Linked DNA regions of Homo sapiens. The protein of the gene in region 1 interacts with the protein of each later gene in a pairwise test. Each region holds a gene or a part of one and is shown on either strand. Other genes may lie near its edges. The genes, in order: SSX7 and DNAAF11.

Evidence for each region.
Region 2: the proteins of SSX7 (region 1) and DNAAF11 interact in binary tests that used the Homo sapiens proteins (3 or more experiments, as listed by UniProt).

What each region holds. Positions count from the first base shown.
Region 1 is NC_000023.11:52,653,080-52,657,001, reverse strand, and holds the start of SSX7 (protein SSX7), read left to right. Parts: upstream 1-2,101; 5' UTR 2,102-2,240; intron 2,241-3,509; 5' UTR 3,510-3,529; coding exon 3,530-3,598; intron 3,599-3,922.
Region 2 is NC_000008.11:132,633,912-132,637,833, forward strand, and holds part of DNAAF11 (dynein axonemal assembly factor 11), read right to left. Parts: intron 1-3,922. UniProt on the Homo sapiens protein: Involved in dynein arm assembly, is important for expression and transporting outer dynein arm (ODA) proteins from the cytoplasm to the cilia. Acts as a crucial component in the formation and motility of spermatozoal flagella.

The DNA.
Region 1 (3,922 bases):
ATCACCTGAGGTCAGGAGTTCAAGACCAGCGTGGCCAACATGGTGAAACCTAGTCTCTACTAAAAATATGAAAATTAGCTGGGCATAGTGGCACATGCCTGTAATCCCAGCTACTCAGGAGGCCGAGGCAAGGAGATTCGCTAGAACTCAGCAGGCAGAGGTTGCAGTGAGCCAAGATCGCACCATTGCATACTGGGCAACCAGAGTGAACCTCTGACTCTAAATACATACATACATACACACATACACACAATAATTCTCTTCCTCTTACAGCAGTTACAGCATCAGAAGGTAGCTTCATGGGTTCATTTCTCAAGAGAATACCTATTGTTTTCTGTATTTTCAGCAAGGTTTTCTTCTTCTAAAACCTCAAGGGCTGCGATGGCCACTCGGCAGCCTAGTGGATTGCCACCGTATGTGGACCCATGGTCGCCTGGCTTAATGCTCAGCATTATGTCATCGTCCCACAGCACTGCAGACATAGAGTATCAGCCCCCAGAAAAGGCCTTTCCGAGGAGGACTATATCAGGTCTGACATTTTCATGATCAACAGCCAGCCATCTACCAGTTCTGGCCAATCCTATCTGTATTTCAGCAGCAATGAACAGAACCAAGCTGGGAGCACGAGATGGGATGAGGGTAAGTTAATATACCACAAAGCTTACTGTTTTTACAGAGTTTCAGCTGGTTCGTTCGTTCCTTCCTTCCTTCCTTCCTTCCTTCCTTCCTTCCTTCCTTCCTTCCTTCCTTTCTTTTCTTTCTTCTTTCTTTCAAGTATGGATGTATTTATTTATTTGACAGTCTTGCTCTGTCGCCCAAGCTGGAGTGCAGTGGTGTGATCTCAGCTCAATGCAACGTCCGCTTCCCAGGTTCAAATCATTGAGCGAGCCCAGAAAGTCAAAAGCAGCCGGGGAAAAATAGCAAAAGGCAGGGCGGTGCATGCCTGTAGTCCCAAGGCTGAAGCAGGAGGATCGCTTGAGCCCAGGAGGTAGGGACCAGCCAGGACAACATAGCAAAACTGTCTCTGCTAGAAAAATTAAAAATATTAGTGGTGGTGGGGTGGTGTGAGCCTGTAGTCACCAGGCTGAGGCGGGAGGATTGTTTGAGCCCGGGAGGTAGAGGCCAGCCTGGCCAACATAGCGAAACCCCATTTCTACTAACAACAAGAACAACAAAAAAATTGCGTGGGTGGGATGGCTCACTCCTGTAGTTCCGAGGCCAAGGTGGGAGGACTGCTTGAGCCCAGGAGGTCAATACCAGCCTGGCCAACGTAGCGAAAGCCTGTCTTTCCTATAAGTAAATAAATAAATAAATAAATAAATAAATAAATAAATAAATAAAATAAAATAAAATAAAATAAAATAAAAATGAGCAGGGCAGAATGGCAGTAGTCCTGAGGCCGTGGTGGAAGGATCCCTTGAGCCCAGGAGGTTGAGGCCAGCCTGGCCAACATAGCGAAACCGTCTCTTTTAAAAAATCCAAAAACAAAAAATATTAGTGGGGGTGGGGTGGTTCCCACCTGTAGTCGCGAGACCGAGGCGGGAAGATTGGCCAAGGCGGATGTAACCAATACCACAATCACATCCCATAAGTAAATACATTTTCCTCTCTCCAGGGCTACAGGTAAAGGATGGTAATTGTGCACACCACACTTAGATTCCCTTTCAAAAATGTAATCAGAGGTTGGAGGGCCTTGGACTGTTTTTTCAGTAGCAACAGATATAGAAGCCACTGAAGAATGAAAGCCACTACTAAGTACAGCAAAGCTCTGCAAATGTGCTAGTCTGGAAAACATTGTGTCTTTCAAGTAGAAAAATCACAGATCCGACTATTTTTTTCTTCTCGCTGTTCAGACTAGAAAACAGATTTTTAACCCAAGATCCAGGGACGGTCTTCAGAGAGTTCAAAATCTCCTGACGGCGCCTGAGGACCACCCACTTTGTCGCAGTGGCAACAAAGTGTTGCTGGAGGAGGAGACAATATTGTGCAATGTCACTATGCAGGGATGATGGACCAATCAGGGCAGTTAGTGAACTCCATCTGGCCAATCAGAAGTCAGAACAGTAGCGTGATAAGCGAAGCTGATGTGGCTTCTATCAGTCCAGGCTCCAGGGACAGAACCTTCTCAAAGTGGGGGTGGAGACTCTGATTTTCCCGCCTAAAGCATCCCCTGGGATTGGCTACTTTAAGTTCAGAGTATGCATGCTCTGACTTTCTCTCTCGATTCTTCCATACTCAGAGTACGCACGGTCTGATTTTCTCTTTTGATTCTTCCAAAATCAGAGTAAGCATGCGCTGATTTTCTTTTTCCATTCTTACTACCCCTCCCCTCCTCTGTGGTGCATTTGTTATCTAGTTTTAATAAGGAGTGTATGTGAGGCAGGTCGCCATCTCAAATCCTTCCTGTCAGTTTCTAACTTTTTCAGGTATGGGATTTTTCCTGGGAACTCTAGTAACTTAACAAATTTGGGCCGGGTACGGTGGCTCACGCTTGTAATTCCAGCAGTTTTGGAGGCCACAGCTGGTGGATCACTTGAACCCAGGAGGCGGAGGTTGCAGTGAGCCATGATCACACCACTGCATCCCAGCCTGGGCAGCAGAGAGAGACCATGACTCAAAAAAAAAAAAAAAAAAAAACTCACTCAAATCTTTCCTCCTGGGATCAAGTGATCCTCTCGCGTAGGCCTTGGGACTAGAGGTGCACACCACTCCGCTTCTGTTAATGTGTGTGTGTGTGTGTGTGTTTTGTTGTTGTTGTTGTTTTAGTAGAGATGGTTTCGGTATGTTGGCCAGGCTGGTCTCAAGCTCATGGGCTCAAGCGATCCGCCCTCCTTGGCCTCCCAAAGTGCTGGGATTACAGGCGTGAGCCACTGCGCCTGGCTGATTGCTGCACCTTGAAACTCCCTACATTCTCTCTAAGTGATGGCGGGCTCTTGTAGTCTCAGAAATTCTAGCTCTCTTCTTCTAATAATTTACAAATCACCCAGTAATAGCCTCTAAATCCGTTCATATTAGCCATGCTCATTTCTCTTCAACAGAACAGAACCCCCTATCCCTCTGCCTGATCAGATCCATCACCAGAGAGACGATGTTATCTCTGGGACTCATTTCCCTTCCATTATTTATTGAGTCGGGGTGTCAGCATGCCCCCACTGAATAAAATTACACAGTCACATCTCTGCCTTCCCAACAAGGGTCTGTACATCTTTCAGAGTAAGGCTAGCCCCAGGGAAACTACTAACAACATTAGCCAACCCCCTCCCAAAGACTCAAGGCTGCTTTGCCCACAGGAAGCCTGTCATCCCAAATCAATACTTCTCCCAGAGACCCCTGGTTCCCTATTTTCATCTGACTTCGCCCCATGTCATTACTCAGGGACAGATAAGCCCCAGATGGAGAAATGAAGCACCTGATTCCAGGTGACTGAGGGTGGCCGGCCTTCACTGATTTCTCCCTCCACAAGACCAAAGCTGCTGTGGCTGGAAAGACTCAGGCTATTTCTCTTGCAGGTCAGACTGCTCCTGGTGCCATGAACGGAGACGACGCCTTTGCAAGGAGACCTAGGGCTGGTGCTCAAATACCAGAGAAGATCCAAAAGGTGAGGTGACCTGGAGGGAGCAGAGTAGTGGCCCAGGGGACAGTGTGGGGTGGCCAAGTTTCTGAGGAGGGGAGGACAGAGATACTGGAGACAAGGACCAGGGTCTTGGGGGAGATCTGGATCCTTGAGAGCCTCCCATCCTCGCTCTGTCATCAACTAGCATCCTTGGAGACAAGTCTGTGACCGTGCACTACATTTGGTGAATCTCAGTCCATTCTGGAAAGTGGGAAGAGAGTCAGTCAGCAGCATTAAAGCCCTACTGTGTGGCAGGGGTGAAGCTAGGAAAGGTCGCTCATGTTGTCGGTTAGCCATGGCATCATCCCC
Region 2 (3,922 bases), on another chromosome or scaffold:
AACACCTTCATTTTAGCCCAGTGAAACCATTTCAGGCTTTTGATCTCCAGAATCATAAGGTGATACATTTGCATTGTTTTAAGTCACTAAGTTTGTCTCAATTTGTTACAGCAGCAATAAGAAACATAAAAAAGGAAAAAAAAATACACACAAAGATTTAGTCAAATATAAATTAAAAAATTATTAGAATCAGCTGAATTATAAGTCAAAATTATGTAGAGATTTGGAAAAAAGATAATGCCACATATGCTCTGGTCATAAGGACTCATATGGTTGCTATAGATGGGCTGCAGATTTGGTTCTGAGCTTCTTGGCAGCCAAAGCGAAATAGAAAAACATAACTAGTTACACAATTTTCATGGTCTTTAAGGAAAAAATAAAGTTTGTAGCTTTCCTCTAACATGCAGCTCTAAAACACATTTCTAGCACAGAGTTTCATAATGGAGATATTGAGAGATGTCAAGCATTGTTTCTGTAGAAATATGGCCATACAGTCACAGGTTTCATAAGGCTGTTTCTTGTAGTATCCTTCAATAAAGGTATCTTCATACCATTACTTATGAGACCATAATGATAAATTCAATGCAATAAAACCTATTATTTAAGGCATTAAGTAATTGTGGTCCACATACTTAATTTGATCTAATTTAATACAGGATTGGGATCAAATCAATTTGGAAATTTTTGGATAAATGAAATTTACTTATTTTGTAAGTATATATAAGTAAATACACTGATATAAATATATGAATCAACATAAAAGTAAATATATTTATATATAACTAATACTATATAAATAAAGCACTTTCATAAATTTCTGTTAAGTCATCCAGTTTGTGGCACTTTGTTATATTAATTTATATAGTATAATTTATATATAAATATATATTAACATAAATACATTATATATAACTGTATATTATAACAAGCTAGAAAACTCTAGATAATTTCTTTCAACTAGGATTTCTTCCCAACAGAACCCTGGGGAGCAAGGTGATCTTTTCTTCCTTGTAATTGAAGTACATTAATTGATTGATTGATTGATTGATTTCTGTCTTATAAATGATGTAAGTCTATTTTGATTTAATTAGAACTACATTCCTAAAAGGCTATGACAACTGAACCCTCTGTCACTTTACTGACAGGAGGCAAAAGACCTCATATTAATAACTGATGACAAATTTGGGACTGTACCCCAGCACCTATTCTAGGAACCTCACTTTTTTAGTGATTTCTGTTAGTCTTTGAAATTGGCCCACATTTCCTTCAATCCAAAATCATGTCTGAGTTTAGAAGGCCTAAGAATCAGAGATCCAGTTTTAAGCTGAGCGTTTCTTGATCTTTCTTCACCCAGGATTCCTGCAGCACAAAGGTGGAGTGTCCACACTTATTGATAATAACTGTGCAAGTGCTGAAGCAGAGAGAGGGACACTAAGATGTACTGAAGGCCTCACAGAACTCCCTTGAAGTAGGAATTATGATCCTACTATACATGAGTAAAATGAGGCACACAATTCACAGGCAGTGGAAGCAGGGGTCAGACCTTGGTTTGTCTGCTAACAAATCTGTTTCCCACTATACTGCAGGGCCCACCTACTTCTGGAGTGGCTCAGACACTGGGAAGAAAAACCTTGAAAAGGGCTGACTCTCCTCACACCTCTTCTATGTGACTATCTAAAATAACTACTCTGTTGTTTTGGGTTGAATTGACAAAAAAAGATGTTGAAGTCCTAATCCCCAGTAGCTCAAATCATGGACTTTTGGGAAATAGGGTTATTATAGATGTCCCCTGACAAAAAAAGATGTTGAAGTCCTAACCCCCAGTAGCTCAAATCAGGGACTTTCTGGAAACAGGGTCACTATGGATATAATTCACTGAGACTAAATTATCCTGGAGCAGGTGGGCCCCAAGCCAATATGACTGGTGTCTTTATAAAGAGTCTTGTGAAGAGGAAGGCAGAGACCCTCAGGGTAATGTGTCTACAAGCTCAAGAATGCCAAAGATTGGCCAGCAAATCAGCAGAAGCTAGGAGGGAGGGCATGAAGCAGATTCTCCCTCGCAGCCCCTGGAAGGAACCAGTCCCGTCAACATCTTGAACTTGAACGTCTGGCCTTCAGAACTACAAGATGATACATTTCTGTTGTCTAAGCCATCTAGTTTGCAGTACTTTGTTACAGCAGCCCTAGGAAAATAATACATTTATTAACACAATTCCTTTTAAGCAGCTCACAAGCTTTCAATGAAATGGTAATTAAGACTCTAAAGCATATCAACCTATTTTTACATAGTAGTAAACATATGAATACCATTTTTCAAAAAGGGGCTGTTTTCTATTGAAGCAGTTAATTTGGAGAAGTCTTTCTGAAAGGAAAGACTTGATCCAAAGCCTATAATTTAACCCGGAGAGAAGCAGTGAATGTGGGTATAGTGTGAATGGTGGAGGCATCAAGGTCCGACTCACATAGGTTCAGATCCCACCTGTGTCACTTGCCAGATATGTCAGCCTAAACAAGCAGTGTTCATTCCCTGAGCCCTGACTTCCTCATCTCTGAATGTACCTAATTGTCTCCCTGAATGGGTCTGGGAGGATCAAAAACACTGTGCCCAAAGTACCTGGCACAACCTCTGACCCTGTCTGCAGCAGCCATATGATGGCTCTCACACCTCTAGCCTGACCAGGCTCAGCTGCAGCACTGACACAGGCTCAGCTGCGGTGGCCATGAGGACTCCTGGACCCTTAGCCCTTCCAAGGGAACGGCTCACAGCATTACACTACAAGATCTAGTCCTATGATAGTCTGGGTCTCATCAGTTCATTTTCTAGGAAATCACTGTATAATAATGATCAGTTTAGGTTATGTATGAGACAATTTATCATTTATTCTATATTCAATTACTTGAATCACTCATTCTCTTAATCTGAGAAATTTTACATTAGAAGAAATGTGTTCCATTAATCCAGCAGTCAGCAGTCTCTTGACTGCAGAGAACACAGAAGTCTAAGAAACAAACGTCCTTTGAGAACTGAAAAAATGCCTATTGAACAGGCGATGTATCCATGCATTCTCTTTCCAGGAACATGGAGCCACATGCAGGCTGGGAACTCTTAGAATTACATGAAACGTAACATTGCTATCTTAATATTCTCTGTTGTATGATTTCTCAAGAAATAATATTTTTTCCTCAGTTCTAAAATTACTCGATTGGGGGGATATGGTATAAGAGTAACATACGCAGTAGTGGTTGTCAAATGAGGTTCCTGCACCAGCAGCAGAATTACCAGATTTTGTTAGAAATGTGAAATCTCAGGCCCCATGTCAGACCTGACCCAGAAACCCTGGGGGAGGAGCACAGCAGTCTGTGTTTTGAAAAGGCCTCCACGTGCTCTGATGCACACCAAAGACTGTGAACCTGCCGGGCACGGTGGCTCATGCCTGTAATCCCAGCACTTTGGGAGGCCGAGGCAGGTGGATCACCTGAGGTCAGGAGTTCAAGACCAGCCTGGCCAACATGGTGAAACCACATCTCTACTAAAAATACAAAAGTAGGCAGACATGGTGGCACATGCCTGTAATCCCAGCTACTTGGGAAGCTGAGGCAGGACAATCACTTGAACCTGGTAGGCAGAGTTTGCAGTGAGCCGAGATCGTGCCACTGCACTCCAGCCTGGGTGACAGAGTGAGACTCCATCTCAAAAAAAAAAAAAACAAGTAATAATGAATTCTTATCAGTAATGATGAATGTTCTTCGTAACTATGATTTGAACTCATTGAGAAAAAGTCAAATTAAGTTCTGTGTGTTTTGGATGAGAAAGGTGAAAAGTATGCAATTTATTTTTCAGGGATTTATTAAAACTATTCAAACAATATTAAAGGTCTAGCCATTCAAATAATTACTTTGGGCTCTCTGGAATATTCCATTA